Linked DNA regions of Homo sapiens. The protein of the gene in region 6 purifies or fractionates together with the protein of the main gene of each other region. This does not show direct contact. Each region holds a gene or a part of one and is shown on either strand. Other genes may lie near its edges. The genes, in order: PLS3, WDR1, UACA, ETFA, ACTR2, SH3BGRL and FLII.

Evidence for each region.
Region 1: the proteins of SH3BGRL (region 6) and PLS3 purify together in Homo sapiens (affinity purification with mass spectrometry; one large-scale study listed by BioGRID and IntAct). This does not show direct contact.
Region 2: the proteins of SH3BGRL (region 6) and WDR1 purify together in Homo sapiens (affinity purification with mass spectrometry; one large-scale study listed by BioGRID and IntAct). This does not show direct contact.
Region 3: the proteins of SH3BGRL (region 6) and UACA purify together in Homo sapiens (affinity purification with mass spectrometry; one large-scale study listed by BioGRID and IntAct). This does not show direct contact.
Region 4: the proteins of SH3BGRL (region 6) and ETFA fractionate together in Homo sapiens (co-fractionation; one large-scale study listed by BioGRID). This does not show direct contact.
Region 5: the proteins of SH3BGRL (region 6) and ACTR2 purify together in Homo sapiens (affinity purification with mass spectrometry; one large-scale study listed by BioGRID and IntAct). This does not show direct contact.
Region 7: the proteins of SH3BGRL (region 6) and FLII purify together in Homo sapiens (affinity purification with mass spectrometry; one large-scale study listed by BioGRID and IntAct). This does not show direct contact.

The regions. Positions count from the first base shown.
Region 1 is NC_000023.11:115,567,674-115,571,173, reverse strand, and holds part of PLS3 (plastin-3), read right to left. Parts: intron 1-3,500. UniProt on the Homo sapiens protein: Actin-bundling protein.
Region 2 is NC_000004.12:10,082,300-10,085,799, reverse strand, and holds part of WDR1 (WD repeat-containing protein 1), read left to right. Parts: intron 1-1,269; coding exon 1,270-1,357; intron 1,358-2,621; coding exon 2,622-2,778; intron 2,779-3,500.
Region 3 is NC_000015.10:70,683,559-70,687,058, forward strand, and holds part of UACA (uveal autoantigen with coiled-coil domains and ankyrin repeats), read right to left. Parts: intron 889-3,500; coding exon 707-888; intron 1-706. UniProt on the Homo sapiens protein: Regulates APAF1 expression and plays an important role in the regulation of stress-induced apoptosis. Promotes apoptosis by regulating three pathways, apoptosome up-regulation, LGALS3/galectin-3 down-regulation and NF-kappa-B inactivation.
Region 4 is NC_000015.10:76,304,970-76,308,469, reverse strand, and holds part of ETFA (electron transfer flavoprotein subunit alpha, mitochondrial), read left to right. Parts: intron 1-3,500. UniProt on the Homo sapiens protein: Heterodimeric electron transfer flavoprotein that accepts electrons from several mitochondrial dehydrogenases, including acyl-CoA dehydrogenases, glutaryl-CoA and sarcosine dehydrogenase.
Region 5 is NC_000002.12:65,255,331-65,258,830, forward strand, and holds part of ACTR2 (actin-related protein 2), read left to right. Parts: intron 1-214; coding exon 215-364; intron 365-3,500. UniProt on the Homo sapiens protein: ATP-binding component of the Arp2/3 complex, a multiprotein complex that mediates actin polymerization upon stimulation by nucleation-promoting factor (NPF).
Region 6 is NC_000023.11:81,205,102-81,208,601, forward strand, and holds part of SH3BGRL (adapter SH3BGRL), read left to right. Parts: intron 1-3,500. UniProt on the Homo sapiens protein: Appears to function as an adapter protein that bridges proteins together or proteins with mRNAs. May function as a ubiquitin ligase-substrate adapter.
Region 7 is NC_000017.11:18,248,739-18,252,238, reverse strand, and holds part of FLII (protein flightless-1 homolog), read left to right. Parts: intron 1-92; coding exon 93-240; intron 241-422; coding exon 423-559; intron 560-761; coding exon 762-974; intron 975-1,221; coding exon 1,222-1,401; intron 1,402-2,830; coding exon 2,831-2,913; intron 2,914-3,037; coding exon 3,038-3,112; intron 3,113-3,355; coding exon 3,356-3,439; intron 3,440-3,500. UniProt on the Homo sapiens protein: Is a regulator of actin polymerization, required for proper myofibril organization and regulation of the length of sarcomeric thin filaments. It also plays a role in the assembly of cardiomyocyte cell adhesion complexes.

The DNA.
Region 1 (3,500 bases), about 34 Mb from region 6:
CGCCTGTAATCCCAACACTTTGGGAGGCCGAGGTGGGTGGTCATGAGGTTAGGAGATCAAGACCATCCTGGCTAACACAGTGAAACCCCGTCTCTACTAAAAATACAAAAAATTAGCAGGGCATGGTGGTGGGCACCTGTAGTCCCTGCTACTCGGGAGGCTGAGGCAGGAGAATCGCATGAACCCGGAGGCGGAGGTTGCAGTGAGCTGAGATCGCGCCACTGCACTCCAGCCTGGACGACACAGTGAGACTCCGTTTCAAAAAAAAAAAAAAAAAAAGAATAAATTAAACGATAAACAGGTTTCTGAGCTAAGCGAAGAAGCTTCTTCAACCTGAAACATGGCTAGAATCCTTCACATTCACAATGAAAAACAATAAAAGGAGTGTTTTTCCAATACCATTAAATAAAACACAAAAAACCCCACTAATTTCTAAAATCTTGCCAGCCTGGGCAACATGGGGAAATCCCATCTCTACTAAAAAACAAACTACAAAAAAAAGTTAGCCAGGCATGGTAGTACACGCCTGTAATCCCAGCTACTCGGGAGGCTGAGGCACGGAGATCGCTTGAGCCCCGGGAAGTCAAGGTTGCAGTGAGCTGAGATCGCACAGTTGCACTCCAGCCTGGGCGACAAAGCAAGACTCTGTCCAAAAAAAAAAAAAAAAAAAGGAAGGTAGGAAGGTACTCAAATTAGAGAAAAAGAGGTAGATATAGATGCCTGACAAAAATCATCTAAGGCAACATTAATCAACCTGTAAATGAAAATACTTATTGAGCACCTACCATATGCTAGTTGCTTTATAAGTGTTCTCATATAATAATTATGAGAACAAAGTGAAAAGTGAGTGTATTATCTTCATTTTATTCATGGGGTAACTGAGGTTCAGAGAGTTAAGAAACCTCCTCAATGCCACAGAGATATAAAATGGGAGAGCTGGCCCAGGCGCGGTGGCTCATGCCTGTAATCCCAGCACTTTGGGAGGCCAACGCAGGTGGATCACGAGGTCAAGAGTTCAAGACCAGCCTGGCCAAGACGGTGAAACCCCATCTCTACTAAAAATACAAAAATTAGCCGGGCACAGTGGCAGGAGCCTATAATCCCAGCTACTCACAAGGCTGAGGCAGGAGAATCGCTTGAACCTGGGGGATGGAGGTTGCAGTGAGCCGAGATTGTGCCACTGTACTCCAGCCTGGGCGACAAGGTGAGGCTCTGTCTCTAAACAAATAAATAAATAATAAAATGCGAGAGCTATTGGAACCCATACTTTATGCTAAAATCCATTCTGACTGTGCAACATAGCATGTAAATGATGCCCCTGAAAAGAAAAGAAAGGTAGTGAGAATGTGTTGTTGGGTGAAAGGAACCTTCCAAGTCACTTCTGGGTCATAATAGAATTCCCAGACCAATAAAGTCTTTGGTGAGTGAGGCTAGTGAACTGGAGGAAAGAGAAAAACACCATGGAAGGGTCTGTGAAATGGCATGGGTTAAGTTTCAGGAGGGATATGTAATGTACAATGAGCCATTTAAATACACAAAATATTTGTAAATTCAAGTGCTTGTAATTTAAGCAATCGCCATATACTGAAACCAGGCACAAATTAAGTGACAGCATCAGAATTTTTACTATTATTGGACCTATGTTTAGTTATATTATTTAAGCAACCTGAATGAAATGTAAAACTCTGAGTTTAACTGTAGTTTATTGAGTGATATCAAAGTACTTTAAGAAACTAATAGCCTTGAGATAAAAGGGCATATCAGCAAATAGTCATTTAGCCAACACCAGGATTAAATGTTTCTTTAGGATACTGAATGTTCATAGGCACAAATAAGCTTTGTATACTTGAACTGAGTTTTATAATAATATTAAACATAAAGGCTTCTTAAAAACAAACGTGTCTCCCTTCCCCCATTAACAGTTCCGTTTCAAAAAACAGAACTTCCTATGATTGTACACAGCACAGAATCCTACCTCATCCTGCTCTGCACCTGCTAACTAGATCAGAGAAAACCAAAATACTTCCAAGACATATACTTTACCTAAACAAGTTCCAGTTTAGAGTCACATATGATACAATACACTATATAAAGAATGGCCTTTTCTTTTTTCTTCTTCTTTTTTTTTTTTTTTTTTTGAAACGGAGTCGTGCTCTGTTGCCCGGGCTGGAGTGCAGTGGTGCAATCTTGGCTCACTGCAACCTTCACCTCCTGGGTTCAAGCGATTCTCCTGCCTTAGCCTCCCAAGTAGCTGGGATTACAGGCGTGCGCCACCATGCTCAGCTAGTTTTTTTGTATTTTTAGTAGAGACGGAGTTTTGCCATGTTGGCCAGGCTGGTCTTGAACTCCTGACCTCAAGTGATCTGCCTGCCTTGGCCTTCCAAAGTATTGGGATTACAGGCCTGAGCCACCATGCCCAGCCTTCTTTTTTTAAATGCCACTGAAATCAAGGCTATCTTTTTGTTTAAGCCAATGTTTAAATTTCAGGGACTATCAAAGGAATTCATCTTTAAAACATTCTTGGTGACTTCTAAAAAATGATAGAGTGCAAAATGATGTTCGATCAAGAATGCTTACTGAAGCATTATCTGTAAGATATGGAAACAAATGTTCAACAACTTGGAATTAGTGAAATAAATTATGAAACAGCCATTATATAAAATATACTGCAGTGATTTTAAACATTTTTAAAAATATTTGATCACTTGGAAACATGTTTATAATGTAATAAATGAAAAGAATGGGATATAGTGTTATTCCAATTTTTAAAAATTTCTCTTCCTACATATAAAATAAACATAAAAATATGAGCATTTAAAATTATAGTTACCTTGAATTTTTCTAATCCAAAGCAAAGTGATTGAAAACATCTTTAAAGTACACACTACACAAGACACTTTCCCAGTAGATTAATTCATACATGTTGAATAGTATAGCAATAGGATGTGCTCTAGGGACAATTTCGTATCATTTTCACCTCTGAGCAAACTCTTTGCACCCTATAATGGTGATTCTTCCTGATCTGAAACACAAGCCCCAAAATGTTAAAATGAACAACAAGAAATGGCAAAAATGGGAACATTCAAGCAAGTTAAGAAATATAGAAAAAAAGCTTGAAAATTACATTCATCTATGAATGAAAGCGTTATTTTCAGTGTCAACAGCAGAATGTCAATCTGAGTGCAACACGATGTAATTAGAGCTTATAATGTGGAACACAATAATATGAATATTCAAAACTATTATACGGCCCTAACAAATTTTATTTTACAGAAAGTAAAAACTTATATTATATATCACGTAAAACTTTATATAATATACATATGCACACATAAGTGTATATATACTCGTGTGTGTATGAATATCACAACTCAAGGGAATCAGACTTGTATTTTCAATGAACTGGACAGAGTATGAATGGGCGACAGAGTGAGAACCTGACTCAAAAAAAAAAAAAAAAAAAAGAAGAAGAAAAGAAAAGAAAATCCAAGTTAATAGCT
Region 2 (3,500 bases), on a different chromosome or scaffold from region 6:
GGTATCAGCCCAGGCTGCGTGTTAGAACCACCTGGGAGCTCTAAAAAGCGCTGGCTGCTGACGCCCCCAGAGGCACTAAGTTTACAGGGAAGTCTCAGGGCAGCAGGAGCTTGCAGGCCTCCAGAAGGAACACCCGTGGGCATCTGGGCATGGCTAGGAGTGTTTCTGGTAAGTTCAAGGCATTGAGCCTGCACACAAGTCTCTTGGCCTCTTGCCGAGTGCACGTTCTGATTTGGCAGGAAGGTGGGCCTGAGCCCTGCTGGTGGGGGCTGTGCTGGTCTGAGGTCCGCGCTGTAAGGGACTGGTGGGATGCCACATTGGAAGGAGGCCGCCCAGCTCAGTGTCTCTTACTGGGGCATGTGATGATTTTTCCCCACGTCTCTGTGGAAAAGATGAAAGTAGCTGCATTCGTTGCCCATTCTCCAGTCCCACTGGTAACTGTGTACCTGTCTCCAAGGAGACCTGCATCCAAAGATCTATGCCATATTGTGGCAACATGTGGCATACCACAGAGATCAAGAATTCCTGCGGAAAAGCCCTGAGCTCAGAGGAGAGGGGCCAGCCAGGAGCTGGCCTCCCTTTGCAGGAGAAAGGCATGAGGAGCCTGCACCCTAGCTGTTATTTTTGTCTCAGGCTCAGATATGGAGGGGGCTAAACGCCGCCCTCTGGAAGCAGCTGTCTGGTTGTGGACCAGCCTTGTGTGCCCTCCACTGCAGCAGTCAGGGAGGTTAGGGTAGGAGCGTCAGCGTTCACGGACAGCCTTGGGCTTTTACAGTGATCAGAGAGACCCCTGCCCTCAGCAGGGCCAGCACTCCTGGGCAGGGAGAGAGAAGAAACCTCACAAACCAGGGCCTGAAGCGAATGTGGCCAGCGAAGTCCTCCTGGACCGACCCCCTTGTGGCTCCCCGCGACGGGTGCTGGTCGGCGGGGTGCAGGCCACGTGTCTGCACACGTTAGGTGCTCAGGTGCTGACGTGCTGGGCCTTGGTTAGACGCAGGTCTGGGCCCAGGTCTGGGTTAGGTACCTTGGAGGGAGGGGAATGAAGGGCAGGGTCTGTAGGTGACTGGGTAGCTTTGGAAAGGTTTCTTAGGGCTCGTGGGCCGTGCATTCGGGCAGCTGGGGCTACTGGGGCCTCAGAGCACCTGCACTGCCATGGATTGAGGGGCGTCTGCCCCCTCCATTACCCAGAAGCTTCGTTGGTGGAAAGCGGGTGGCAGAGGGCAGGGCAGTGTGTCATCAGCTTACCCGCCCAGTGTGTCTCCTTCACAGGGTCACAGTAAATCGATCCAGTGTCTGACGGTGCATAAAAACGGCGGCAAGTCCTACATTTACTCTGGGAGCCACGACGGACACATTAATATCCTTTGACTCAAAGAGCTGGCTCCGGAGCCGCTGGCTCTAGGGGGGAATTTCCTGTTCCCATGATGCCAGAGGCCAGGCCAGCCAGGTGGCTCCAGCTGCAGCCACAGCCACACGCTCTTCTGACCCGTGTGGCTTCTAGGGGTGGCCTGTCTGTACATGGGGACAGGCAACTGTCCCCTGGAGTTGTCCTTGGCAACTCCAGGGCTTATGCTGAGGAAAAGCCATGGGCGGCTCCGACCTGATCAGTCCCTTCTTGTCGTGCAACCCTGAGAGTGTGGCTTAACGGCCCTGAGCTTGGGCTGCCACTACCTCTGCCAATGGCACCTGGCGCCAGCCTTGGCCCTACTCCACATGGTGGGTTTCTTGATTCCTAGAATTCACAAGCACCTGGACACCCTTACGTTGGGTCCCCTTGTTTTAAAAATAGGAAAACCAGAGCCCAGAGAGCTGATGTGCCCGCCCCAGAGTCATGCAGCCTGTGGTCCACAGAGCCAGGGCTGGAGCTCCTGCGAGGTGCCTTGTGGCCCTTCGGTGATGTTCCCTGGAGGTGTTTGTGTCCCCCTTATAAGTCCTTGTCTGGGTTTCTTTAAATGAGTCCTGGTTTCTCCCTGATGATGGGGGCTTCTGTTGTGTTTTTCCTGCATGGCCTGGGGCTGGTGACACCCTGCTCACGGGTGTGTCTTGAACCTTGGAGCCACCATCTGCAGAGTGCCTGGGCAGGGATGCCCACACACGTTGCTGATGATGGCACCTGCTGTGCGTTGTTCTGCTGCCCTCCCTGAGCACCGTGCTGTGTTGGAGACTGCCTTTTGTGTGGACAGCTCTGGTCCGCATGTGCTGTACCTCCCAAAGGGACTGTCCGGGACCCAAGGAGGTCCCCCCAGGCTGGGAGAGGAGGGCAGACATGCCACCCTCTGCCCCCAAAACATAAAGAAATGTGGGGTTAGAGGGTTGCGCCTACCCGATAACTAGTAGCAGAGGAGACGCCGGAGCCTCCCCAGCTTGCTGGTCCCCAGTAGGCCTTCAGCACGGCTCCCTTTCTGCCTCATCCCAATCCCTGTGTGGTGCACCCACACTTCAGATACCCCTTCCTAAGAACGTGTCAACAGTGGACACTGCAGGCTTCCCAGGGGGAATGGTTATGTCCGTTTGCGGCGAGATTCTCATTCTTGATGTAAATGGAGAATCTTAGGACTGAAGCCACACCTGAGAACACCCAGCAGTCCTGGGAGCCGGGCTTTTCCTTAACCCCACCCTACATTACTGGGATTCAGAGACGGGGGAGAACGACTCCTTCGCTGGGAAAGGCCACACGAACCAGGTGTCCAGGATGACCGTGGATGAGTCGGGGCAGCTCATCAGCTGCAGCATGGACGACACCGTGCGGTACACCAGCCTCATGCTGCGGGACTACAGGTGAGAGCACTCGGGTCTGCGGGGGTTCCGGATGAGCCTCAGCTCCCCTCGGAGGGCTTGTGCCCTCCAGCAGTTACTGTTCTGGAGGACGCCTCACTTGCTCCTTTCATCTCTCCCACCCCGTCCCCAGCATTGTTCTCCTGTTGTTGGGCCCTGAGCCCAGCACTGTGTTACAGATCCAGGTGGTCTGGGTAATGCTCTTGCCCACAGACAACGACCAGGTGTGGACTCTGCCCTGGAAGCAGGGGCAGCAGATCACAGCCCTGTTCTCCAGGAACCTGCTGCGGTCTCTCCCTGTGTCCCTTTCCTCATCAGTAAAGGCGGGTACAGTGGAGCCTGCCTCAGGCTGTTGTGGATTAGGTGAGCCTGGCACAGGGCAGGTGCTGAGTACAAGACAGCATTCCCCTTCTGCTCAAGGGTGAGATGGGCACACAGTGATCTGGTTAAAAGACAATGTCTTGTTTGTTTTTGGTCTTGGGCCTTTGATTGGCAGTCAGTGGAGCTAGGAGAGTAGCAGTTTGCAAGTGATCTGAAGTCCTAAATGCAGTTGGAGGGACTTGAAAGAGAAATGTTCCAGGACCTGACGAGGCCACTGCACATCCAGTGTCCCCATGCCCAGGTCTGACCCCTCCTCTGGCCCTACATTTCTTGTGTAGACCCCTTTGTCACCCGGTAGTCCTGCCTAAGTCGTGTTGCCTGGGAGATGGGGACTCCTGGGGCCT
Region 3 (3,500 bases), on a different chromosome or scaffold from region 6:
TTATAAATAGCTTAAACACTACATGTAGAAAACTGCTTTATTAAATGAAACTTAAATAAATGGAATCTCATACACCAACAAAAATCATACTATAGAAAAACTATTTTTGAGGGAAAGGCCTTCAAAATAGGTTACATAAAAAAGTAAGCTACAATTCAGATTTACAGTGAATTCAATTTAATGGGAAAAGACTAGAAGGATATTTCTCAAAATGTTAACAGAGGCTTCTCAGTGGTAATGAGTGACTATTCATTGTGCTTTTCTGTATGTTCCTGTTTTTTTTAAAAAAAACATAAAAAATCATGGCATAGGCATTTGGTAAATATCAGCTGACTATTTTACATACATGTTTAAACAATGATTCTTTAAAACTTCGTAAGTATAAAAAGTTGGGAGGTTCACCCCTCTTCATCAAAAAAAAAAAAAAACTTAGTAAAACACTTGACTCTTCCTTCTCAGTTCTGAAGTTATTCCAGTGTCTTAGTGTTCACTGGATAAACTAGATTATATATGCAACACACACTGCCTCAAAGCAAGTGACCATAATGTAAGTAAGCAAATCCATGTTGTAGAGGGAGATGAACCAATACTGTTTATCAGTAAGGAATGTTTTGCTTCTTATAAACTGTAGTTCTACTACCTAAGTCTTTTAAAAAGTGGCTCTTTGTTAATGTGGACTTTTCTAGTTACAGAAAACTGCTGATACCTTTGTTGGTATTTTCCGATGCAGTCTTCAACAAGGTTAGAATGTCCAGATTGTCACCAATTCTTGCATAGTAAGAACTATCATGGCCAAGCGCATCCAGCAAGCTTATATCAGCACCATTTTTAATTAAGACTTCTACTGCATCTCTGCAACCATATTCGCAACCTAGCATGAGGGCAGTTCTAAATGGAAAAATGGAAGAGCAAAAGACTGAGAAAACTCCAAGGAAATATTGCAGAAATATTCTGCCCTATTGTTGAACACTGTCTTAGTGTTCACTGGATAAACTAGATTATATATGCAACACACACTGCCTCAAAGCAAGTGACTATAATGTAAGTAAGCAAATCCATGTTGTAGAGGGAGATGAACCAATACTGTTTATCAGTAAGGAATGTTTTGCTTCTTATAAACTGTAGTTCTACTTGAACACTAAGTTCAAGTAAGTGTTCAACACTACTTGAACACTTACTTGAACACTAAGACATGCTCCCTTCTTGAAGAATAGACACTACTTTAAGAAGTCATGCCTGTTACAGATATAGATTTTACTTTATATTCATTGCATTTATAAAAACATTTGCTTTGTCTTCTATATCCTTATATCCTTTAATTACTTCTACTACCAAACCAACCTCATTTATTCCACTTCTTCAATGTCCTACACGTAAATAATCACCACAAAAATTTTCCACAACTGATACTGTCACCCCATGTGATCAAAACCCAACTTTTTCAGTCCCTTCATGAACTGAACCACATCATGCAAACCTCCCCTAAGAATCCCTTCTCCTCCAAGAGAAGTATCAGATTCCATTCCTGATGTTCCTGCTTAGAAGAACCTTGATTCTTCTACCTGAAGACCTTCACATCTTCAGACTACAACTAACGCCATGCAACATGGATCATTGCTTTATTCTATTGCAATAGAACCACTGGCACTCAAACATCTCACAGTACATCAGCAAATACTAATCATGCAACAAAATAATTGTCATGAAAATCTAGAAGGACCCTAGAAATTATTTTGTCTAATCCTCTATTTTTTAGGATGGGGCTAACCAACACGTAATGAAATGAAATGACATATCCTATATCTAACTCTGTCTTCAATTGTGAATATTGGATCTCTTAAGGAAACTGACTCTTGCCTTTTCTCTGCTATGTATGCTGTGTTTCTCATATTCAAGCCTTGTCCCCCAACTCCCCTGTAGTTGCTGATAAGAAATTCTGTACAAAACAGGCATTAACAAAGTTTTTGTTATTTAAAAAATGCTACATATAAAACAGGAAAAAAAGAAATGAATATAGAGTATTAGAAACTAAGGTTATAAATTATGTTGAAAACCATATGCTATTTAGTCTATACAATATACACTGCCCTGCTTCATTGGCTTTTTGTGAATGCCCAATGAAAAAACATAGATAAAGTGCTTTGAAAAATGTGAGAGCTATAAAAAATATAAAGCACTGTATGTAGATCAACCAGATTATCCCTCTGTGATCCTAAAATTAAATTTAACTTTTTTTTTTTTGAGACAAGAGTCTCGCTCTGTTGCCAGCGCAGTGGCATGATCTCAGCTCACTGCAACCTCCGCCTCCTGGGTTCAAGGAATTCTCCTGCCTCAGCCTCCTGAGTAGCTGGGATTACAGGCACGCACCACCACACCTAGCTAATTTTTGTATTTTTGGTAGAGATGTGGTTTCGCCATGTTGGCCAGGCTGGTCTTGAACTCCTGACCTCAAGTGATCCGCGCCCAGCCGTAAAATTTAATTTTAAAATCCAATTTTCTTCATCATGCTTGGAATCAGATGATAGTATCCACAAAAACAAAGTAATATTAAAAAGCCACTTCTTAATCACATCTTTTTTTTTTTTTTTTAATATTTAAAGAGGTTTATTCTGAGCCAAATGTTAGCAACCATGGCCCATGACACAGCCTCAGGAGGTCCTGAGAATGGGTGCCGGAGGTGGTTGAGTTACAACTTGGTTTTATACATTTTAGGGAGACAAAAGTTACAGGCAAAGGTATAAATCAATACATATAAGGTATACATTGGTTTAGCTCAGAATGTCAGGACATTTCAAAGTAGGGGCTTCCAAGTCAAAGATTTCCTGATTGGGAATTGATTGAAAGCATTAAGCTTTGTCTGGAGAATTGAAGTCAATATAAAGAAATGCTTGAGTTAAGATAAGGGGAGTTGTAGAAGCCAGGGTTCTTTTTTTTTTTTTTTTTTTTTTTATACTTTAAGTTTTAGGGTACATGTGCACAATGTGCAGGTTAGTTACATATGTATACATGCATCATGCTGGTGTGCTGCACCCATTAACTCGTCATTTAGCATTAGGTACAGAATTTCCTCCTTTGAGATGCATAAAGAAAACAATTACAGCTATAAAATCTGACAACTAAAGACTATTTTTTATACTTTTATACTTCTAATAAACTACAAACAATAGAATACATGTTTGGAAGAATAAAATTAAGTCAAAAGAAACCAAAATTTTTACTAGTAACTACAAAAATCCCAGAAATTTTAGTTTAATTTATTGTAATACTTGAATTAAATGGAAGGGGTGTGTTTCAGATACTTTGTGACCATAAACTTCAGAATTGTAATACAACAAGCACCATGATACATTAGACCTACAGACAGAGATAGGGAGAATTCTGGATAGAAATTATTAGAGCACACCAACTAAAATAGTATCAAATACAGAAGCAAAAATAAAGCAAGGGACCTCTGCAGTACAGAAATGGACAGGTTCAGAGTAGGAGATGGCACTGTACCC
Region 4 (3,500 bases), on a different chromosome or scaffold from region 6:
GTGTTCCCCGTGCATCATATTAGCAGGTACTTAATGTTGGTTTATCCCATTAGTGGTAATGCTGACTTTAGTTACTTAGCCAAAGTGTTGTTTGCCAGGTTTCTCCACTGTCAAGTTAATACTCCTCCTTTTGTAATTTTTAACTAATTTGTGAGGCGATTCATTGAGACTATGTGACTGTCCTATTTCTCATCAGACTTTTACCCAGTCTTAGCATCTGTTGATGATTTTTGCCTGAGAAATGATTACTATGATGCAAAATGGTGATTTTCTATTTCCATGATACCTTCGTACATTTTTTAGTTATTCTACTATAAGGAAGAACATTATCTTCTTGCATATTTATGGATTTATGGATACATGGATCCTTATTTAGGATAATACATTTCTACCTTATGCTGAAGTTGTCTCATGTTTGTAAAGTGGGGCCCATTCAATCTGACTCCTGTTTGTTTACATATATATGTTTGTGATATCACAAAGTCAAAATAGCTTATCTCAAGTCCCCACTCTTGAAATTAAAAAAAAAATGTTCTGTAGCTAACCATTAATGCATTTAGGAAGAGGATACATTTCCAAAACCATATTTAAAAAAATAAAGTTAGGAATTACAGTTAAAAGATTACCATAAACTGTTAACGATGTGCATATAGTTAACACTTAACACTTAAAAATGGTTAAGATGGGGCCAACCATGGTGGCTGACACCTGTAATCCCAGCACTTTGGGAGGCTGAGGCAGATGGATCACCTGAGCTCAGGAGTTCGAGACCAGCCTGCGCAACATGGCGAAACCCCATCTCTACCAAAAAAAAAATTAGCCAGGCGCCATGGTTCACACCTGTAGTCCCAGCTACTTGGGAGGCTGAGGCACGAGACTTGCTTGAACCTGGGCATTTGAGGCTGCATTGAGCCCAGGTAGCACCACTGCCCTCCGGCCTGGGCAACAGAGTGAGACGCTGTTTCAAAAAAAAAAAAAAAGGTTAAGATGGTAAATTTTATGTATTCTTTTAAACCACTTTGTTAAACTATTAGGATATAAGTTCAATGACTTGCATTTGGTATCTAAGTTCCATTTTTAGTTCTGACTGATTTGTGCCATTGAGTAAAGTCTTTCATCCTTATGTGTGTGGCAATGGTCTTTAAAGTCATCTGTTAACAAAGATAGTTTTTATATCTATAATAAAGAGCTAGAGAACACACCAAGAGGCAAATAGGTAGGCATTTGCAGTTAGTTAATATTCTTGCAGGGATATTAATCCTAATTATTGTTATTTATTAATTTGCTCTTGAAATTGATTTATTGAAGAATAAGAAGATGCAGAAAAATATTTATGTGGTGAGTGAAACAACAATTTCAAGGTCATTTGAGTACTCTTTTTACTGTGTTTATTGTCAGGTGGGAAGGAATATCTATCAGGACTGAGAAGCTATGAAACTGGTGTGAAGGAACATGACACTTTTCTGTCTAGTATTGATGAATAAGATTGAACTCTGTAATTTGCATGCAAATTTTAATTTCTATTGAAAGAAGAAAGAGAGCCAATTTTGGTGTGATTCTAAAAGAAAATTTATTGCATAAGGTGAATTCAGTAAAATTATGATGCCTGCCAATGTGTCTACTAAGAGTCTTGTCCTTTCTTAAAGTGAAGTAAATTGACTGTGTTTTTAGTATTACAGTCAATGTCATATAACATTTCTGGTCATGATTAAAAGCTGCTATATTTTATTACTAAAAGGATTAAAGGAAGTATTTAAAGTACAGAAATATACATTTTAAAAATTACAAAATGTATGTTAAAATAGGGATAGGTGACTTTATATATTATCCTTTTGGGTATGACTCAGAAAGATTTTATAGCTTATTCTTGCTGTTTTTCTTTTTTTAATTAAGAAGCAAAAAAACCGGCTGGGTGCAGTGGCTCATGTCTGTAATCCCAGCACTTTGGGAGGCTGAGGTGGGTGGATCACGAGGTCAGGAGTTTGAGATTAGCCTGACCAACATGGTGAAACCCGTCTCTACTAAAAATACAAAAATTAGCTGGGTGTGGTGGTGCGTGCCTGTAATCCCAGCTACTTAGGAGGCTGAGGCAGGAGAATTGCTTGAACCCAGGAGGCGGAGGTTGGAGTGAGCTGAGATCGCGCCACTGCACTGCAGTCTGGGCGACTGAGCGAGACTCTGTCTCAAAAAAAAAAAAAAAAAGAAGCAAAAAAACCCTCCCCTGCCCTCTATACCCTCATTACACCTAGTTTCCAAAGATGGTTGGGGTGGAGGTATAGGTTACAATCATTCTTACTACTTTAGGTTATGAGTGGGTTTGTAAGGGTAGAGAGTTAGATTCCAGCTTTTTTTCTTCTTCTACCATCTGTGGTACTTTACTATGTGAATATACAGTTCAAGTCACAGCAAGAACTCTAAAAAACTGACAAGCAAAAACAATGTCAAAAATGAGGCTGATGCTGGGCACAGTGTCATGTGCCTGTAGTCACAGCTACTCATGTGGCTGAGGCAGGAGGATCACTTGAGTCCAGGAGACCAGCCTGAGCAACATAGCAAGCAAGACCCAGTCTCAAACAAATACCCACCCCCACAAGAAAAAAAAAAAAACAACTATTGAGGTTGAAAAAGAGAAGGACCAAAATGTGTTCATTGGACTTAGCCATAATGAAGTTTTTGGTGACTTTGGAAAGATTGGATTCAGTGTTGTGAAGGTGAAAGCCAGTTTGCATGAGTAACTGAAAAAATGGAAGGTGAGGTAATAAGAGTTGGTGTCTGTGGAAATTATTTTCAAGAAATTTAGCTTTGAAAGGGTGCAGAGAGGGTGATAACCTCTTTAAATCCTGCCCACAAGAAGTATACTATCTTATAAAGGCCAGTCAACTTTATATGGGTATGTGGCTGGCATGAGAAAGAAAACTTCATATTTTGCTATTTGCAACCAAGTCTAAACAGAGTATAGAGAACTTCTCTAAAAGCATGATGGTGTGTCTGTTTTAGTGATGTAACAGTTTATGTACTGTTTAGTTACCCTTATACATGTTTAGTTGATTACATTATCAATGAGGAAACAGTTGCTTTTTAGTTTTTGATAATTTTAAGAAAAGTTTTCATTTAGTTACTATTCATTGAGTGCCAACTGTGTGCCAGAGAGGTAGATACCAAGTTCACAGTGGAGAACAAGACAGACCTAGTCCCTGCCCTTGTGATGCAAACAGATTAAGGAAGAAACACATTATTTTAAGTGTGGTCATTGTTACAGAACATAGAGGGTGTTTGGGAGAGGTTTAATCTTGTTAGAGGACTGGAAAACACTGAAAGGATATCTGTGAAATTATGTTTGCACACTGAGGTGCCTTAAACTATTGTTACTGAGTGATAAAGTAATAGAGCGGAGGATTTTCTTTCTTTCTTTCTTTCTTTTTTTTTTTTGAGACAGAGTCTCACTGTTGCCCAGGCTGGAGTGCAGTGGCGCCATCTCGACTCACTGCAGCCTCTGCTGC
Region 5 (3,500 bases), on a different chromosome or scaffold from region 6:
TACTTATGAATTGTTAATTCTTTTACCCTCTCTGAAACTGAAATATAAATCCTTTTATGGCGGATAAAATCCTGCTTCTGAAATAGTAGGAGCTGAGGATCCACTGCCCATTCTGTTTGTTATTGATGTGACATATTTAATGAGCATTACTAGCTTTTGCAGAGTAGAACTCATTCAGATGTATTATGAACTTATTGCTATTGTTTTGTACCAGCTACTTCTGTTGCGAGGATACGCCTTCAACCACTCTGCTGATTTTGAAACGGTTCGCATGATTAAAGAAAAACTGTGTTACGTGGGATATAATATTGAGCAAGAGCAGAAACTGGCCTTAGAAACCACAGTATTAGTTGAATCTTATACAGTAAGTGTTTCCAGTGTATAATATATATGTGTTTTAAAGTGGACAGCCATGATTATTGGTGTCAGCTTAAGGAGGTTTTCTTAGAATCAGTATTTTTGTCTTGGGTTGTTGTAATATGTATATGTGTGACTTTTAATGTCTCTTTCTACATTAAGTTTCTATTTAATTATTTTAGGGCACCATATAATGCAAATTAAGGCAAGAATCATAAATTACTCTCTATACTAGGATATAATTAGATGCGAGATGTTATTTTGAGATTCTAGTATTTGGCATAGCATTTCTCAATGTATGTTTTACAGAACTTTATTTCCCTGAGATGCTAATAAGCATTTCACAAAAATTAAAAAGGATTACATTGTCAGATGAGTTTGAGAAAGAGTTGATTTCACTTCACTGTAGAACTCAGAGCCTTTGGTATGCTAATATGGGCACAATTAATATAGTATGCGTGTTTTTCAGACTTATGCTCTAGGACTTTTCAGAATTTCATGGGATTAGTGATCTAAGAAACATACTTTGGAAATGGTCATTCTAGAGCATTGCTTTACTAATTCAGTAGGTGGCAGCCTTTCCTGACTTAATATTCTTTAATGAGGTGTTAAATGTTAACTTGAAATTGTAACTAATGAGATTTAGTACCTGGTTATAGTTTATAACACCAGAGGAGTTGATCCTACTTGAATTTTTAATGAATTACCATCTTAAGCCTATTAAATTTGTCTGAGTATAAAGTACTTCCAGGTCTCATCTTTGATCTAGTTATTACTAAAATGAAACAGTAATAGGCAATGAAGGCAAGTATTTTAAAACCATATGATGCATACTAGCTCTACATATTCACAAATATATGCAAAATAGTCATTTTTAAAGTAATTATAAAAAATTTGTTGTTGGCCGGGCGCGGTGGCTCACGCCTGTAATCCCAGCACTTTGGGAGGCCGAGGCAGGCGGATCACCTGAAGTCAGGAGTTGGAGAACAGCCTGGCCAACATGGTGAAACCCGTCTTTACTGAAAATACAAAAAATTAGCTGGGCAAGGTGGTGGGCACCTGTAGTCCCAGCTATTCAGGAGGCTGAGGCAGGAGAATTGCTTCAACCCAGGAGGCAGAGGTTGCAGTGAGCTGAGATCGTGCCACTGCACTCCAGCCTGGGTGACAGAGCAAGACTCCATGTCGGTAAAAAAAAAAAAAAAAAAAAAGTTAAGATAGTGATCCAAATATTCAGTAAACCCCCATTTAAAATTTTTTTAAATTTATTTTTTATTATACTTTAAGTTCTGGGATACATGTGCAGAAAATGCAGGTTTGTTACATAGGTACACATGTGCCATGGTGGTTTGCTGCACCCATCAACCTGTCATCTGCATTAGATATTTCTCCTAATGCTATACCTCCCTCCCCTTGCCGCCCCCCACCCAACAGGCCCCATGTGTGTTGTTCCCCTCCCTGTGCCCATATGTTCTCATTGTCAGCTCCCACTTATGAATGAGAACATTTGGTGTTTGGTTTTCTGTTCCTGTGTTAATTTGCTGAGAATGATGGTTTCCAGCTTCACCCATGCCCCTGTAAAGGACATGAACTCATTCATTTTTTTATGGCTGCATAGTATTCCATGGTGTATATGTGCCACATTTTCTTTATCCAGTCTAACGTTGATGGGCATTTGGGTTGGTTCCAAGTCTTTGCTATTGTGAATAGTGCTGCAGTAAACATATGTGTGCATGTGTCTTTATAGTAGCATGATTTATAATCCTTTGGGTATATACCCAGTAATGGGATCGCTGGGTCAAATGGTATTTCTAGTTCTAGATCCTTGAGGAATCACCACATTGTCTTCCACAATGGTTGAACTAATTTACACTCCCACCAACAGTGTAAAAGCGTTCCTATTTCTCCATATCCTCTCCAGCATCTGTTGTTTCCTGACTTTTTAAGGATCGCCATTCTAACTGGCATGAGATTTTGTGGTTTTGATTTGTATTTCTCTAATGACCAGCGATGATGAGCTTTTTTTCTTATGTTTATTGGCCACATAAATGTCTTCTTTTGAAAAGTGTCTGTTCGTATCCTTTGCCCACTTTTTCATGGGGTTATTTGTCTTTTTCTGGTAAATTTGTTTAAGTTCCTTGTAGATTCTGGTTATTAAGGCTTTGTCAGATGGATAGATTGCAAAAATTTTTTCCCATTCTGTAGGTTGCCTGTTCACTCTGATGATAGTTTCTTTTGCTATGCAAGAAGCTCTTTAGTTTAATTAGAACCCATTTGTCAATTTTGGCTTTTGTTGCAATTGCTTTTGGTGTTTTAGTCATGAAGTCTTTGCCCATGCCTATGTCCTGAATGGTATTGGCTAGGTTTTCTTCTAGGAGTAAACCCATTTTGTAACTTAATCATCTCCAGATTTGCTCTGGAGATTCCTTCCTGAAGTCTTCTTGACAGTTTCTCTAGTTGTCTGATTTTCCATCTACCTGACTATTTTGGAAGAAAGTGGCTGGCACAGGGCAAAAGATAAGCAAACTAGGAATGTAAAACATGTTTTATTTCTTCCTTCTCTCTTTTCTCAAAGAATTTGAGGTAGGCTACAAAAATATATACAAATAGGCTGGGTGTAGTGGCTCACACCGGTAATCCCAGCACTTTGGGAGGCTGAGATACGAGGATCACTTGAGGCCAGGAGTTCATGGCCAGCCTGGGCAATATAATGAGACCCTGTCTCTACAAAAAAAATACAAAAATTTGCCAGGCGTAGTGGCACGTGCCTGTAGTCCTAGCTAGTTGAGAGGTTGAGGTGGGAAGATTGCTTGAGCCCAGGAGTTCAAGGCTCAAGTTTTGAGGCAGAGAGCTAGGATTGCACCACTGCACTCCAGCCTGGGTGAAGGAGCGAGACCCTGTCTCAAAAACAAAACAAAATCCATATATATATTTGATATATATATGCACACACACACATATACACAAGTATAAAGTAATAAGCTGATGAATAAGTGAGGAGGGACATGGGTGGACAAATACAGAACAGGATAAGATTTGGTGCAAAGAAATGGGATGCCTGCAGTTTTAACAGTTCATTAAGGTGATTAGAAAACTTGACCCCATGCTGGCCAGCAGCCAGAGAATGGAGAGAAGCCACACTATCA
Region 6 (3,500 bases):
TAGCTATACAGTAAATTATATTGGTAACTATAGCCACCCTATTGTGCAATTGAACAGTGGATCTTATTCCTTCTATCTAACTGTATTTGTGTACTCATTAACCAACCTCTCTTAATCCTTCTTTCCCCCTACCCTTCTCAGCCTCTGGTAACCACCATCCATTCTACCCAATATCTTCATGGGATCGACTTTTTTAGCTCCCACATGGGTGAGAACGTGTGGTATGTCTTTTGTCTTTCTGTGTTATGTCTTAGTTCACTTAAAATAATGTCCTCCAGGCTCATCCATGTTGTCACAAATAACAGAATATCATTTTTATGGCTGAATAATATTTTATTTTGTGTGTGTATATATATGTGTGTATATATAAGTGTGTGTATATATATGTGTGTGTGTGTGTGTGTATATATATATATATATATATATATATCACATTTCCTTTATTCATTCACCGTTGATGGACACTTAGCCACATATCATAGTTATTTTGAATAGTTCTTTAATAAACATGGGAGTGCAGATATTTCTTTGATATACTGATATCCTTTCTTTTGGATATATACCCAAAAGTGAGATTGCTAAATCATGTGATAGTTCTATTTTTGTTTTTTGAGGAACCTCTATGCTGTTTTCCATGGCAGCTCTAGATCATGTGGTAGTTCTATTTTTGTTTTTTTGAGAAATCTCTGTGCTGTTTTCCATAGCAGCTGTACTAATTTACATTCCCAGCAAAAGTGTACTAGTATTCCGCTTTCTCAGTGCCCTTACCAGCATTTGTTATCTTTTTGGTAATAGCCATTTTAATTGGAGTGAGATGTTATCTCATTATAGTTTTGATTTGCATTTTCCTGATGGTTAGTGATGCGGAACATTTTTTCTTATACCTGTTTGCGATTTGTATGTCTTCTTTTGTGAAATGTTTATTGAAATCATTTGCCATTTAAAAAAATTGGATTATTTGTTTTTTTGTGGGTTTCTTTTTTGCTACTGACTTCCTTATATATTCCACATATTAATCTCTTGTCAGATGGATAGTTGGAAAATATTTCCTCCCATTTTTAGGTTTCTCCTTACTCTATTGATTGTTTCCTTTGCTGTGCAGAAGCTTTTTAGCTTAATATAGTTCCATTTGTCTATTTTTACTTTCATTGCCTGTTTTTGAGGTTTTACCCAAAAAATCTTTGCCCAGACCAATGTAATGGACTTCTTGATGGTAACCATAATAATGATAGTCAGTAGAAGCCCCTAAGTATGTCAGATACTATCTCATTTTTAAAAATAATCCTTTGAATTAAGCACTATGATTATCTCTGTTTTTCAGAGAAGGAAATACAGTATACAGGTTCAAAGAGTAAATAACTTTCTCAAGGTTACACAGTTGGTAAGCCATAGAGCTTGAATCCAAGCAAGATGTTTGAATCCAAAGAATATGTACTTAACCACCAAGAAATGCATCCTCCCAGTGATTTATGGCAACTAGTAGGCATGAGGAAATAAATTTGAACACGAGTAAGAGGTAGGGGAGGAAGTAAGTCCTGTAAGTGGAAGAAGAGTTGCCTGGGCATGTGCATATAGGGGAATAGAGAAATGGGCAGCTAGTGTGTAGGAGGGATATTGTGTCTAAAAGGGAATGTCTGTAAGTAGGGTAAGTGACTGTTCACCCAAGGCCAAGAAGATAGAGAAGACCTACACAGTTGGAAAGCCTAAACTGGTCTGGTATAGGTCAAGGTATAAAATTCAGGCCTTAATACTGTTTAGTTTGATGGGAACCATTTAACAAGAATGCAGCTTCCAAGTAGTCTGTCTATATGAAGTGATTTCTGCCTGTTCAGAATTGTTTATACATGTCTTAACTCACTGTGACACAGGTATATGCCACGTTTTGTTTCTTGAGATTGTAATGCCTTGTAAATTTACATTTAATGGAAAATGAATAGTAATCTCAGAGCCTATATAAGTTAATAAATTGCAATAACTTCTTAACAAAAATCAACATTGGCCTAGGATGAGAATTGCTAGAGAGATGATAGCTTGGAGAATTTTAACTGGTTTGGGAGTTTTTTCCCTATACATATTTCCCCAAGACCCATAATGATCTCCATTTCATGGCATCTATGCATTCTATTTGTGCCTTGGTGTAGAAATTTTAAGATTGTGGGAAATAGATGATTTCTTAGGGTTTTAATTGTGAAGTAACTTTTAAAAATTGATGTATTTTATATAACTGATAAAACAGAAGCTAGTTGTAGCTTGGATTGTTCACAAATATACATAATTTTTCTCTATGGTTGTACTCTGCACAATTTATAACAACAGATAAAACAATGTTCTGGATTGTGTAATTAGTCACTAGTCACAGTATTTTCTTCATCTGGATAATATAGAAGAGCAAGACACAGTTCTTCATTATGTGGTTCTCAAATAATTGTACTTTAGGCGCAGAATGTTTTGCTGCTCTGTCTGTATTTATACATTAAACATTGATTTTGTGTATGCAAGGATTTTTGTCATATCTTCCAAAGTTTGTTTGAATGTTGTTTAAAGGTGTTCATAGAAGATGTTCACTTAGAAGACTAAAATTAGAAACTGTTCACCAAATGACTGGGACATACTTTTTGGAGGTCCCTAACAGTGGAAAATGGCAGCTTTCACATGGCAAATGTGGAGACTCAAGATCAGTGCTTTCAAATTGATGCTTAGTATTTGATGGCTGATTTCCTAAATTTCACAGAAACATTGGAAGAATTTGGCCCAAAAAGAGGCTGATCAGTGATCAGTGATGGTGATTCTTGGGCATTTAAAAAGATGCTTAAATGTTACATGGTTGTAGGGAAGAATATATTGTGAAAGTTTAGTAAAAGATTAATTATCTGGGCCGGGCACGGTGGCTCACATCTGTAATCCCAGCACTTTGGGAGGCCGAGCTAGGCGGATCACGAGGTCAGGAGTTCAAGACCAGCCTGGCTAACACGGTGAGACCCCGTCTCTACTAAAAATACAAAAACAAAAAAATAGCCGGGCGTGGTGGCGGGCACCTGTAGTCCCAGCTACTTGGGAGGCTGAGGCAGGAGAATGGCCTGAACCCGGAAGGCAGAGGTTGCAGTGAGCCGAGATCGTGCCACTGCACTCCAATCTGGGTGACAGAGCGAGACACCGTCTCAAAAAAAAAAATCATTATTTGGTAGAAGAGAAAGATAAAATGGACTTATTTCTAGCACAAAGACTAGTTACTTTGTTGAGGAAGGGTTTTGATCAATAAACCCTCCACCAGGGTTAGCCTAGGGAAAAAATAAATAAACCTCAAATGTCAATCAGATTGAATGTTCTCTGTAGCTAATCTTTAAAATCTTTTATGAAATATATATTGTGCAATTAACCAAGTATCATTTACAAAAACATTTCCTGCTTTAATGGAATTATCAAGGTTGAATTTTGTATTTCATTTCTTACTGATACAAGTAAACAGATTAAGAGAGAAGCTGCTGGTTAACTATCTGACC
Region 7 (3,500 bases), on a different chromosome or scaffold from region 6:
TGGCGGCTGCAGACAAGAGCAAGAAACTGGATTGGTGTGTCTGGGAGGTAGGACCCAGGCTCAGTGCCGGCTCTGCTCACCCTATGGGGCAGGTCCTGGATGTGCGGGAGAACCCCAACCTGGTCATGCCGCCCAAGCCCGCAGACCGTGCCGCTGAGTGGTACAACATCGACTTCTCGCTGCAGAACCAGCTGCGGCTAGCGGGTGCCTCTCCTGCTACCGTGGCTGCAGCTGCAGCTGGTGAGTGGGGAAAGGTCTGGCCTGGGAACGGGGGCTCCTCTCCAGGCCTCAAATGACACATCTGTAAATTGGGTGGCATACAGCTTTCTGGACCCTGGTGGGTGGAGTTGGCCCCTGGTTGGTCGCATGCCCAAGGGGGCAGCAGGCCCAGTGAGGGCTCAGCTGTTTGCCCCTCCCCTAAGCAGGGAGTGGGCCCAAGGACCCTATGGCTCGCAAGATGCGACTGCGGAGGCGCAAGGATTCAGCCCAGGATGACCAGGCCAAGCAGGTGCTGAAGGGCATGTCAGATGTTGCCCAGGAGAAGAACAAAAAGCAGGAGGTGAGCCAGGCCAGGGTTGGGACAAGGCAGGGAGCCTTAGCTTCTGCTGAAGGCCGACCCTGGCCTTGACCCTGGCCAAGAGGGACGGGGGGTGCTGGGCAGAAAGAACAGCTGTGCAAAGGCCCTGAGGTGTGGGTAGCAAGTAAAGACTGGCCTGAGTGGCTTCACAGAGTCAAGCCGTGCTCTGTGACTCTGCCCCCAGGAGAGCGCAGATGCCCGGGCCCCCAGCGGGAAGGTGCGGCGTTGGGACCAGGGCCTGGAGAAGCCCCGCCTTGACTACTCCGAGTTCTTCACGGAGGACGTGGGCCAGCTGCCCGGACTGACCATCTGGCAGATAGAGAACTTCGTGCCTGTGCTGGTGGAGGAAGCCTTCCACGGCAAGTTCTACGAGGCTGACTGCTACATTGTGCTCAAGGTGAGGGCTGGGCATGCTGTTAGGGGCCATGTGGCCCAGTACCTTCCTCTAAGATGGCTCAGTCCCCAACTCCAGAGTTTTGTTCAGGGAGGCCAGGTGGGAGGTGGGCAGGCTGCAGGAGGTGGTCCAGGCACAGGGGCAGTACAAAGCCCCTGGGGCTGGGAAGCCTGTGCTGTTCAGAGTGGCGTCTCCGGGGTGGCCGGAAGACCAGGATGAAAGCTGATGTGGCCGGTGCCTTGGCTTCCAGACCTTTCTGGATGACAGCGGCTCCCTCAACTGGGAGATCTACTACTGGATTGGCGGGGAGGCCACACTCGACAAGAAAGCTTGCTCTGCCATCCACGCTGTCAACTTGCGCAACTACCTGGGTGCTGAGTGCCGCACTGTCCGGGAGGAGATGGGCGATGAGAGCGAGGAGTTCCTGCAGGTGCCAGCCCGTTAAAATTGGGGGTGGGCAGAGTGGGGTTCCCAGGGAACTCTGGTGCAGGGGCAGTGGGCCCAAGGCAGGTAGGCAGAACAGGTGGGCAGGCAGGGAGCTGGGGTTAAAGGGGGTGGATCAACGATACTGTGCGGGACCTAAGGCAGACCGCAGGGTGAGGTCTAAGGTGGCCAAAGCCTGGGTCAGCAAAGGAGAGTTCTGGAACGCGGGGCAGAATTCAGCCGGGCAAGGATAAGGGTACAGGCTGGGCATGGGAGCTAGACCAGTGGGCTGACACAGGGGAGCTGAGAGTAGGGTGGAAGGGGTGTTGCCAAGAGCAGTGAGAAGGCAGGGCCAAAACCTGTTATTAGGAGGCAAGGACACACCTGGATGCCAAGGAGGTGGGGCCAAGGGCGGGACCAGAGTCCAGTCTTGAATAAATTACTGAGCAGTGTTAGCCGCCAGCTGGTTACACCTAGACATATGTTCGCATGTACACACACGTGGAGTTTATGCACACACCCCACCCGCCCCGAGTTTTTTTTACCCACATTCACCCAGGTTTCCACTCTTCCATGAACCCACTTGCTTGTGTACCCTGATATGCGTGCATCTAAACATGCTGCTGGCATCTTTACAAACGTGGGTGAACGTGTCCATATTTTTCATACATCCCAACACCCCGACGTGTGTATGTTTATAGACACAGATGTGTATGTTTTATTTTAGACAGACTCTCGCTTTGTTGCCCAGGCTGGAGTGCAGTGGCACAATCTTGGCTCACTGCAACCTCCGCCCCCAGGGTTCAAGCGATTCTCCTGCCTCAGCCTCCCAAGTAGCTGGGATTACAGGCATGTGCTACCACGCCTAGCTAATTTTTGTATTTTTTTAGTAGTGATGGGGTTTTGCCATGTTGGCCAGGCTGGTCTCGAACTCCTGACCTTAGGTGATCCACCCGCCTTGGCCTCCCAAAGTACTAAGATTACAGGCATGAGCCACCGTGCCCAGCCAGATCTGTTTTTTTTGTTGTTGTTTGTTTGTTTGTTTGTTTGTTTTAAGACAGAGTTTTGCTGTTGTTGCCCAGGCTGGAGTACAATGGCACAATCTCAGCTCACTGCAACCTCCGCCTCCCAGGTTCAAACAATTCTCCTGCCTCAGCCTCCCGAGTAGCTGGGATTACAGGCATGCACCACCACGCCTGGCTAATTTATGTATTTTTAGTAGAGACAGGGTTTCTCCATGTTGGTCAGGCTGGTCTCCAACTCCTGACCTCAGGTGATCCACCCACCTCAGACTCCTGAAGTGCTGGGATTACAGGCATCATAGATTTGTAGCACTCAATTCACCTGTATGCAACTCTGTACCCCCACCTGAGGGGCAGTGGTTGGTGGGGGAGGGGGCAGCTCAGTGATGAAGAACCACACCCTCACACACACAGGTGTTTGACAACGACATCTCCTACATTGAGGGTGGAACAGCCAGTGGCTTCTACACTGTGGAAGACACACACTATGTCACCAGGTGAGGGTGTGTGGGCAGTGGGGGGTATGGACCTGGAGTCTGCTGGCAAGGGGTGGAGGGGAGGGTGTTGGGGCTAAGTTAGGCCCTTGGTGCCTACACTGAGCCACTCTTGCCCTGCGCCCAGGATGTATCGTGTGTATGGGAAAAAGAACATCAAGTTGGAGCCTGTGCCCCTCAAGGGGACCTCTCTGGACCCAAGGTGAGCCCCAACAATGTGAGGTGGGGGTGCTTCATCCTCAGCCTCCTCCCCACCAGTGGGGGCAGGTGTGGGCCTCTTAGAAGAGGAGGCCCTCTAGCAATTCCTGCCCACGAGCTTGGCGGGGGGTCCCTGGGGCTTACCCAGAAACCCCATAGTGAGGGATTTTTTTTGGTGGGGTCAGGAGCATGGGGTGACCATTGCCCCATGCACCATCACAGCTCCTTCCTGCCCCTTCTTGTCCAGGTTTGTTTTCCTGCTGGACCGAGGGCTAGACATCTACGTATGGCGGGGGGCCCAGGCCACACTGAGCAGCACCACCAAGGCCAGGTACAAGGACACCGTGGGGTCTTTTGTGTGAAGGAAAGGGGTGTGAGCCTCGCTGATGACT